Regions from separate parts of the Homo sapiens genome. Here all the other regions are linked to region 3. Evidence: fine-mapped expression QTL. A gene starts in region 3. Each other region holds a variant in brackets. All regions are shown on one strand. Distances are from middle to middle.

Region 1 (2,688 bases), 290 kb after region 3:
CCAAGGAGGAGAGCTTGTTGTAGGACAGGTCCAGATGCACAAGGTTATACAGGTGCTGCAGCGGCGTGGAGAACAGCGTAAAGTGGCTCAGGTCAAGTCTCCAAAGATAGGGGCCTGACACTAATGGCAGGATGGGCCTTCCAACCCAAACTACCCAGTTCTGCAAGTCACTCTGACAGTTATTTTAGGAAGGGAAGTCCCTCTTCTCTGCCGCACATGCCACAGCACAGTGGCACCCCTGCAGACAGTTGGGGTGGGCGTTGAAAACATGGCTGTCCACCTTCAGGACGGAGGTGCATCATCATGCCTGGTTTGTATTTACTCATGCTTCCTAATTCTTTGGAACTAGAGCAACAATCACTCAGTGCATTGCTGGGATCCTAAAGCGAAGACAGCAACCCCTGCCCTTACAACCCCTGGCCAATTCCCAAGGCTGCGTCAGTCTCCTGAAATCTCAGGGCGGGGCCTTGGGAGTGTGTGCGGGCAGCACTGGTCTCCAAAGGCACTACCTGCAGATTGTCCACAACCAGCAATCCATTGTGACTCAGGTCCAGGAACTCAATCTTTGGGATCAGTTTCTTGTGAAAGAAAAGAACACCCGATGTTACTGTAGGGGGCTGGACCCCAAACACGGTCCCCGACACAGTGGACGGGCACCCCAGGACGCTTCCTCCCGACCATGGACTCCCACGGGCCGTCCCTGCAGGACCACTGGTGGGACATCTCCCGCTGCCCAGCCAGTAGCACATCCAAAGGCACACACAGGGCCCCCAGTGCTGGGCACTACTCAGTTTTCATGGAACACTTGGCTTGTGAAAATGACACACAGCAAGGTCCCAGACAGAGAAGAGAGTCTGTTCTTCTTCAACCCTGCCCACACTCCCTGAGCAGCGCAAACACGGGAACGACACTCTTACTGCCCAAATGCCCTCTGGGTGTCATTCTTTCATGGGCACATCTGTCATCTAAGGAGTGATTTTTCTGCTCCACTCTTTGGAGCAAATGTCATCATTTAGTGTGTTATAGTTTACCAAATTTACATGAAATTATTATGTTTTATTTGGTTCTAAGTACTACCTCACCAATTTTAAATGATCCCATTTTTTTTTCTTCTTTTGAGACGGAGTCTCACTCTGTCGCCCAGGCTGGAATGCAGTGGCCCTATCTCAGCTCACTGCAACATCCGCCTCCCGGGTTCAAGCGATTCTCCTGCCTAAGCCTCCCAAAGTAGCTGGGATTACAGGTGTGCACCACCACACCCAGCTAATTTTTGTATTTTTAGTAGAGATGGGGTTTCACCACATTGGTCAGGCTGGTCTCGAACTCCTGACCTCAAGTGATCCTCCCGCCTCGGCCTCCCAAAGTGCTGGGATTACAGGTGTGACCCACCACGCCCAGCCCCCATTTTGTAATTAACTTAAAATGGCAGGCAATGCACAGAGCACTAGATATAGGTTTTCCGTGGTCCTTCCTAAAAAAGCTGAGTTAAATACTCAAACTCAGGGTTTGGTGGGGCCAGAGAAACCCCTGGCACCTGCTGCTGAGAGCATACCACAGACTCGTCGATCTCGGAGACGCTGTTGTGGCTCAGGTCAAGCGTGGTCAATGCCTGCCAAGTGGGGATGAC[G/A]GCAGTCACAGGGCCTTCTAGGGTTGTGCCTTCAGGCTCCCACTCATCAAATTCTGAGGCTTCAGGAACAAGGACTTCCTGCATAAAAACATCTGTGTGGAGCACCACACTCGGGCCCTCACGCAACACTCACTGGGAACACAGTCGTTGCAGAATTTAAGGAAGGGCTGGAGCATATTTAGCATGTGGAAGTAAACTTGCATTAAAGCATGCCTTTGGTTCCTATGTCTTTAAACGATTGTGAAATCGTTCAAAGCTGAACAATTTACCACATAACAGCCACTTAGAATTAAGTCCTGGCCCTGCTTTAGGAGCAATGCTTTTCAAGCCCAAAGGGCCTTTGCCCTGGTGACCTGGTGATGCCTTTTCTAGCCTTTTCTCTTTTTTGAGATGGAGTCTCGCTCTGTCACCCAGGCTGGAGTGCAGTGGCGCAATCTCAGTTCACTGCCACCTCTGCCTCGCAGGCTCAAGCCATCCTTCTGTCTTAGCCTCCCCAGTAGCTGGGACTAGAGGTGTGTACCACCATGCCTGGCTAATTTTTGCATTTTTAATAGAGATGGGGGCTTCACCATGTTGGCAAGGCTGGTCTCAAACTCCTGACTTCAGGTGATCCACCCACCTCAGCCTCCCAAAGTGCTGGGATTACAGACGTGAGCCACAGCGCCTAGCCGTTTTTTCTTTGAGACACAGTCTCACTCTGTCACCCAGGCTGGAGTACAGTGGCGCCATCATGGCTCACTGCAGCCTCAAACTCGCAGGCACAAGCAAATCCTCCCATCTCAGCCTCTTGAGTAGCTGGGACTACAGGCGTACACCACCTTGCCCAGCTAATTAAAAAATTTTTTTCTGTAGAAACGAGGTCTCCCTACATAGCCCAGACTGGTCTCAAACTCCTGGGCTCAAGTGATCCTCCTGCCTTGGCCTCCCAAAGTGCTGGGATTATAGGTGCAAGCCACTGCTACTGGCCAGCCAACCGTCTTTTCTAGCTTCTCAGAGGCTGAAGGTGAGAATTCAGTTTCCAGGCAGCTGTGCTTTCCAAGCTGATGATGTGGTCCTCACTG
Region 2 (2,688 bases), 190 kb after region 3:
AAATTAGCCAGGCATGGTAGCACATGCCTGTAGACCCAACCACTTGGATGGCTGAGATGGGGGTATCCCATGAGCCCAGGAGGTAGAGGCTGCAGTAAATTGTGATTGCACCACTGCACTCTAGCCTGGTCAACAGAGCAAGACCGTCTCAAAAAAAAAAAAAAAAAAAAAAAAAGCAAGAATACTTTTCTGCAGATAATTGGGGGAAATTAACTGAAAAGGTTGGAAACAGAAAATTTAGCAAATAGAAATTTCAAAATCCATATGTAAATGAATAGTCTTCATATATAAACTAGTAAGACTTTTGAAAGTAAAGTGAAAGTGTTGAATACACTTTAGCAACTGTTAGAAAAATCTTATGGGAGAAAATATCCATTTCACACTAACAACAAATTAAGAAATAACCTTAACAAGGAATATATAGAACCTCTAGGAAAAAAATTTACTGAAGGACATAAAAGACTTGCATAGATTGTTTTTGAAACTTGACAAAATTATTCTAGCATTCTTATTAAGAATAAATATGTGACAGTCACCAGAAAACAAGGGGGAAAAAGGGGTATGAAAGAGAGCTTTGCCCTTTGATAGTGAACTGAGGGATTTTTTTAAATTTAAAAATTAGAACTTTGCCCTGCCAGATGTATTACATTTTATAAAACTACAGTTAAAAAACAAAATTAAAACCCAGTACAGTGTCACACGCCTGTAATCCCAGCATTTTGGGATGCCAAGACAAGTGGATCAGTTGAAGCCAGGAGTTCCAGACCACCCTGGGCAACATAGCAAGACCTTGTCTCTACAGAAGATTTTTAGAATTTTATTTAATTTAGAAAAACAGTAATTTACCTATAATTTTTTTTCAATAATAAACTTGGAATAGACGAGGATTTTCTGTTCATTATATAAAACCATTGATCATTTTATTGATTTATGATTGAAAATACAAGGTTAATAAAACAGTCTAGGGTTACTGTTTCTAATATACAAAGAGCTCTTTAGGGTCTAGGGGGGAAAGTAGGACTACAAAAATGAGCAGAGGCCCAAATAGATAATTTACGGAAAGAAGGCAGCAAAAAACATGTATTAGTTAACCTAATAGTTTGTATAATACCTAACAGGATGGCAAGAGTTGAAAAGACTGATAATATGTGTAGCCTGGTATAGGATGAGACCACACACACTTTTCTCCTATTGGTGTTTTTTTTTTTGTTTTTTTTTAGATGGAGTCTCACTGTTGCCCAGGCTGAAGTGCGGTAGCGTGATCTCAGCTCACTGTAACGTCCGCCTTCCTGGGTTCAAGTGATTCTGCTGCCTCACCCTCCTGAGTGGCTGGGATTGCAGGTGTGCACCACCGCACCTAGCTAATTTTTGTATTTTTAGTAGAGACAGGGTTTCACCATGTTGGCCAGGCTGGTCACAAACTCCTGACCTCTGATGATCCGCCTGCCTCGGCCTCCCAAAGTGCTAGTATTACAGGTGTGAGCCACCGCCCCCGCCCCTATTAGTTTTTTTTTTTTTTTTTTTTTTTT[G/TG]AGATGGAGTCTCACTCTGTCCCCAAGGCTGGAGTGCATTGGCGTGATCTCAGCTCACTGCAAGCTCCATCTTCGGGGTTCACACCATTCTCCTGCCTCAGCCTCCTGAGTAGCTGGGACTACAGGCGCTCACCACCACGCCCGTCTAATTTTTTGTATTTTTAGTAGAGACGGGGTTTCATCGTGTTAGCCAGGATGGTCTCGATCTCCTGACCTCATGATCCGCCCGCCTCGGCCTCCCAAAGTACTGGGATTACAGGCGTGAGCCACCGTGCCCGGCCCGGTGTCTTTGACCCAGCAGTTTGATGGCAAAGAATATGCTCCAATGGTAGTACTCAAACAGGTGCTCCGAAAGATTCTACGTAAGAGGCGACATCATGGGGCTGGGAAAGAATGTGATTTTTTATATTTTATCAGTATGGGAATGTGTTGGAATCATAAAATAATTTCTTTTAAAAGCAGAATTATCCGGTCGGGTGCAGTGGCTCACACCTGTAATCCCAGCACTTTGGGAGGCTGAGGAGGTTGGCGTGGTGGCAGGTGCCTATAATCCCAGTTACTTGGGAGGCTGAGGCAGGAGAATCACTTGAACCCAGTAGGTGGAGGCTGCAGTGAGCTGAGATCACGCCACTGCATTCCAGCCTAGGCAACAGAGCGAGACTCCGTCTGAAAAAAAAAAAAAAAAGAATTATCAATGGAAGTCAGCATGATAATTAACTTAGATTTCTTACCTGGTATTTAGAAGTCTCTAGGAACTCTCTGTATATGAGTTACTTGGTCTTTTTTGGTCTCATATCTTTATTTCAATATTATATGACCAAGACAGGTCATTCAGGAGCTTTTTTTTTTTTTTTTGAAACGGAGTCTCGCTCTGTCGCCCAGGCTGGAGTGCAGTGGCGCAATCTCAGCTCACTGCAGCCTCCACTTCCCAGGTTCAAGTGATTCTCCTGTCTTAGCCTCCTGAGTAGCTGGGACTACAGGCGTGTGCCACCATGCCCGGCTATTTTTGTATTTTTAGTAGAGACGGATTTCTACCATATTGGTCAAGCTGGTCTTGAACTCCTGACCTCAGGTGACCCACCCACCTCACCTTCCCAAAGTGCTGGGATTACAGGTGAGAGCCACTACTCCCGACCGGAACTTTTTTAAAGAATAACTT
Region 3 (2,688 bases):
AGTTCAGCTGCTTCCCCTACTGTCAGTAGTTACTGAATAAAATCTATTTTCATCATTTTAATGCCTGGCTTTGTTTATCTTTAATAATATCATTAACTAGAGTTCAATCTTTATTTATGGTTCTTTTTGTTTGGTTTTCTAGTGAAGATGAAATTGCTTTGAGTAAAATGTGCAAATACTAAATGTACCATTAGATAATTTTGACAAATTCATACACCCAAATCTCCTATCAAGATATATATCAAGGATGAGGAGAAATTTGAACCCCTGTGGATTGCTAATGGGAATGTAAAATGGTTCAGCTTGCTGTAAAAAATGGTGTGGTGGTTTCTCAATACATTAAACTAGAATTAGCATATGATCCAGCAATTTCACTTCTGAGTGTATACCCAAATGAATTAAAAAGAAAGCAGGGACTCAAACAGATATTCGTACACCCATGTTCATAGCCGAATTATTCACAATAGCCAAAAGATGGAAGCTATCCGTGTCCATGACTGCATGAATGGATAAACAAATTGTGGTGTATACATATAATGGAATATTATTTGGCCATAAAAAGGAAAGAGGCCAGGCACGATGGCGCACACCTGTAATAACGGCATTTTGGGAGGCCAACGTGGGTGAATTGCTTGAGCCGAGGAGTTCAAGACCGGTCTGGGGAACATAGTGACACCCTGTCTCTGAAAAAAAATAAAATAGGATTAGCCAGGCATGGACGTGTGTGCCTGTAGTTGGGAGGATGGCTTGAGCCCAGGAAGTCTAGGCAGCAGTGAGCACCATTGCACCACTGCACTCCAAGCTGGGTGGCAGGGCGAGACCCTGTCTCAAAAAAAAAAAAAAAAAAAAAAAAGGAAAAAAAGGAAGCGCTCTGGGAAAGGGAGGCTTTGGCTGGAACAAATGGTGAATTCTTTTGGCACCCCTGAGCTTTCTTGGGCAGGCATTTTAAAGGGGCCTAGGCCCACCTAGAGATCCGCCCTTAGGCTGTTAACTTAGCATGATGCCATGTTAGAGTTTAGTCAAGTCTCTTAGTGCAGTGGTTAGGGTAGTCGTTAAATGCTGAGGAGTCTTTGTAGTTCTCAATTAGCAGGCGAGTTTTTAGGGATGAAAGGTACTGATAATTTACTTTGAATGTATCAAAAAATAGGATGGATTGCTGGATGCAGAGACGGCATGTGATAAAGCGGATACAGCAAATGTTACTGGTAGAGAGTCTGTCACCCAGTCATTAGAACATGAGCTCCAGGAGGGCAGGGACTTTGTTGGCCTGGCACATAGGCGGTCAACAAATATTTGCAGAATGAACGAACAATACTTGTAACGGCCTTAGGACAAACAAGTGCACAAAAAGAGGAAGCTTTCCCTGACTCTGTTGTGGCGGGGATCCGGACGGTGGAACGGACGCACAGAAAGTGCGCGGAGCCTGGCGGAGTCGCTCTGGCCTCCTGGAGCCTCTGCTCTATGGCGGGTCCTCCCGGGGCTGCGGAACCTCTCTGGCCGCTCGTGGCGTCCGCTCTATGGCCGTCCTTTGGGGACGCAGGAGCATGCGCAGAACTGCTCCCGGCCCGGATCGCTATGGCAGCGGCGTCGTCGCGGGCCGGGCCCCAGCAATCCCGCCCGGGCCCGGCTGCCTCAACAGCCGCCCCCACTGCCCCCTCTCGGGCATGAACCGAGCTTCTTGTTGCCGCCCGCTGCCCTACCCGCCGCTGCCGCCGCATCCCGACTCTGGGCCAGCGCTGGGAACATGCCCCTGGCCGCCTACTGCTACCTGCGGGTCGTGGGCAAGGGGAGCTATGGAGAGGTGACGCTTGTGAAGCACCGGCGGGACGGCAAGCAGGTCTGCAGGGGTGGGGCCCGGCAAGGGGCGGGGGCGGGCAGAAGTGCGCCGAGGGCGCCGACCGGTAGATTAGGTCGGGGGTGGTCGCAAGAGGCTCATCTCGGATGGCGTTTCCTCAGGGAAATGGTCCCAGACCAAGACGAGGCCTGGCCTCCCTGTAATATGCGCCCAGAACTACTTCTACTTCTTTGTTGTGTTAAATTTTTTTCCTTTTAATTTTCATTTTCTTTAATTACAATTCTAAGTTTTATGTAAAAATTTTCAGTCTCTGCCTATCTACTTCTTTGTTGTACTAATTGGCATGCGTGATCTACACACCTTTCTCCCAACCCCGATACTCTCATGAGAGCCGGTATCATGCATTCCCAGGACTTAATACAGCGCCTAGCAAGCATTATTCCTTGAATGAAGGGCCCCAAACGTCTCTACTGTAGACTGCTGGATTCACTTAAAACTCGACTCATTTTCTTCCCGCCAAACCTTCTCTCATGTCTTCCGTTTCAGTGAATAGTGACACCAACCCACCAGTTGCCCAAGCCGGACACCTGGAGTCATTTTTAAGCCTCCCCACGCACCCCAACACTGATTATATTCATCTATCACTAAGACAATAGGCCTCCTCTCATCTCTACTGCTACCACCCCAATCCAGGACACCCTGTTGTCTCTAGCAAAGCTATGGCCACGGTTTCCCAACTGGTCGCCGCCACTTGACTTGCTTTTCTCCAATCCATCACTTTCACTGCAGCCTCAGTGATCTTTCTCAAATTTAAATCTGATGTTGTCACTCCTCTGTTTAAAACACTTTATCCCATTACTCTCAGGATAATGAACCAATTATTCAATGTGGTT
Region 4 (2,688 bases), 160 kb after region 3:
GTGATCTGCCCACCTTGGCCTCCCATAGTACTAGTATTGCAGGCATGAGCCACAGCTCCTGGCCCACTATGTTGTACTTTCATGTGTTCCTCTGTCCTTTGTATTTCCTATAAATTGGTAGTTGGAGCCAGAGGCTTGATCAGATTGAGGTCTGATCCCCTGTTCTCTCCCTTAGGCAGAAAAACCGACTTCATAGGTAATATATGGTCTTCCATCAGGTACATGTGAAATCTATTTATGGCTTTCTGTTAACAGGTGTTGTTGCATACTTCATTAATTATTAATTCATGAAAGGGATGTAAAATTGTGATAGTTTTTAATTTTATTCCTTATTAGCTATAGAGAAACTTTGCCTTATCTAATATTTGATTAGCCAGTGGTACAGTGTTTTTTTTGTGTGTGTCTTGCTTTTTGAAAGGATAAAGGCTTGATTTTTGTTTTATTTTGTTTTCACCTTTACCAGTTTTCAAAATATGTATTGGTTTACTAACATCCTTCAATATTTACCCATTTTGTTGTTTGTTTGTACGTATTATTAAGAACTACCAGACTTAAACATATGGCTGAGTTGTAATTGAAGTTATTGTCCTTATTGATACTCAGGCTGGTTCAGGCTCGTTCCTGTATTCTTTTTGTTTTGTTTTTTTGAGACAGAGTCTCGCTCTGTCGCCCAGGCTAGAGTGTAATGGCTTGATCTCAGCTCACTGCAACCTCTACCTCCTGGGTTCAAGCAATTATCCTGCCTCAGCCTCCCGAGTAACTGGGATTACAGGCGCCACCACCACACTCGGCTAATTTTTTGTATTTTTAATGGACACAGGGTTTCGCCATGTTGGCCAGGTTGATCTTGAACTCCTGACCTCAGGTGATCCACCCACCTTGGCCTCCCAAAGTGTTGGGATTACAGGCATGAGCCACCACGCCCAGCCGGTTCCTATATTCTATTGACATGAAGTCATGGTAAGAAGTCATTGATAGATTCTTTACTGTCTAGTGTTTGAAGATATACCAGACTGGGAATCAGCCATTTACCAAGGAGCCCTACCTTTTTCATGTTTCTGCTGAAAGGTGAGGGCTCCTCAACATTACTATTTGGAATTAGTATTTTAAAACTCTAATGTGGGCTATACTGCTACTGAGGTAGTCATTGTTTGTACGATTTTCAGTGGACAGAGCTAGGAAATTTGTGTGTTTGTTTGTATGTTTATATTTAAAGATAAATTACATCATAAGTTCATAGTGATACTTTCAATTGAGATTAAAGGCCTCAAGGTAATTATTAATGTCCTACGTTTTAACATCCGTTATCTCTTTTTATCCCATGATGAAAATCTCAGTTCTCCAGGATACCAGAGGTGATAGAATGTCACATAGCTACTCATTTGCTTTATTCCTTCTTATTCACAGCTTTCTCAACCTTACAGTAGTCTCCCATCAAAAATATAATTACTGAAAACAGTTAAAAAAAATTTTTAGTACTTTTTTGTCTGCAGGTTATATTTCACTATAGACATGCTAATTGCTAGATTTTACAAATTACTTGGAATCGTCCCTTGTGGTTATGCTACCATCTGTATACAAATTTAGGTTCATTTATTTTATTCATTTAACATTAAATATCTCTC[T/C]TTAGGTAGGAAGAGTGGCATTTCTCCTAAAAAATCAAAATACATGACTCCAATGCAGCAGAAACTAAATGAGGTCTATGAAGCTGTAAAGAACTATACTGATAAGAGGGGTCGCCGCCTCAGTGCCATATTTCTGAGGCTTCCCTCTAGATCTGAGTTGCCTGACTACTATCTGACTATTAAAAAGCCCATGGACATGGAAAAAATTCGAAGTCACATGATGGCCAACAAGTACCAAGATATTGACTCTATGGTTGAGGACTTTGTCATGATGTTTAATAATGCCTGTACATACAATGAGCCGGAGTCTTTGATCTACAAAGATGCTCTTGTTCTACACAAAGTCCTGCTTGAAACACGCAGAGACCTGGAGGGAGATGAGGACTCTCATGTCCCAAATGTGACTTTGCTGATTCAAGAGCTTATCCACAATCTTTTTGTGTCAGTCATGAGTCATCAGGATGATGAGGGAAGATGCTACAGCGATTCTTTAGCAGAAATTCCTGCTGTGGATCCCAACTTTCCTAACAAACCACCCCTTACATTTGACATAATTAGGAAGAATGTTGAAAATAATCGCTACCGTCGGCTTGATTTATTTCAAGAGCATATGTTTGAAGTATTGGAACGAGCAAGAAGGATGAATCGGTATGTTTTCAAAGCCATTTTTATTTTGAGGATATGTGCTATTTAATACAAAACAGATGAAAGAATATTGCTTTGATGTACTATTTCCACTTACATACATGATTTGTAGTTGGTAGCATGCTATTCTGAATTCTAATCAGCCAGAACTTCTTAAGAGTGAGTATATTCTGTGGGGGAGAGAAGGCACACCACTAAGTCATCTAGTTTAAGGCCAGTGAGGAGGAAGACAAAATTGAAAATCTCTTGAAAAGCATAAACTTAAAATACAGCCTTTCATAGAATGTGTTTTTTAAAAAGATAAATGTTTCTAATTGGAAATAGTAACAGCGTTTTTCTTTTAAGGTTTGGCTTCAGTGCACGAATGCTTTAAATAAAATAGCTCTAAGGTGTTGTCCTGAGGTTAGACTGATAGAAA

Direction of the effects. Positions count from the first base shown, and alleles are read on the strand shown. Sizes are in standard deviations (SD) of each study's normalised expression. Not every link is listed here.
In carriers of allele TG in region 2, the expression in lymphoblastoid cells of the gene that starts at base 1,551 in region 3 tends to be lower than with G alone (large effect, 1.8 SD a copy in CAP).

What was found.
Region 1: its variant is fine-mapped to the expression of NEK4 in lymphoblastoid cells (GTEx, PIP 0.99).
Region 2: its variant is fine-mapped to the expression of NEK4 in lymphoblastoid cells (CAP, PIP 0.95). The same link has a PIP of 0.9 or more in lymphoblastoid cells after a statin.
Region 4: its variant is fine-mapped to the expression of NEK4 in whole blood (TOPMed, PIP above 0.99).

Annotation. Positions count from the first base shown.
Region 1 is chr3:52,475,464-52,478,151 of GRCh38, reverse strand. It overlaps NISCH (nischarin), which reads right to left. Exons shown (of 21, transcript NM_007184.4): 8 at 1,553-1,705; 9 at 510-578; 10 at 1-55. Among named protein-coding and RNA genes, the nearest start is that of STAB1, 19 kb to the left of the region's middle. The variant G/A (reference allele first, on the strand shown) is at 1,628.
Region 2 is chr3:52,581,938-52,584,625 of GRCh38, reverse strand. All of the region lies in intron 22 of PBRM1 (polybromo 1), which reads left to right. Among named protein-coding and RNA genes, the nearest start is that of UQCC5, 47 kb to the right of the region's middle. The variant G/TG (reference allele first, on the strand shown) is at 1,530.
Region 3 is chr3:52,769,803-52,772,490 of GRCh38, reverse strand. NEK4 (NIMA related kinase 4) reads left to right here and starts at 1,551. Exons shown (of 16, transcript NM_003157.6): 1 at 1,551-1,837. The coding sequence starts at 1,745. RefSeq lists enhancers at 1,420-1,469, 1,257-1,774 and a silencer at 1,630-1,739.
Region 4 is chr3:52,608,898-52,611,585 of GRCh38, reverse strand. It overlaps PBRM1 (polybromo 1), which reads left to right. Exons shown (of 32, transcript NM_001405607.1): 18 at 1,631-2,273. Among named protein-coding and RNA genes, the nearest start is that of UQCC5, 74 kb to the right of the region's middle. The variant T/C (reference allele first, on the strand shown) is at 1,626.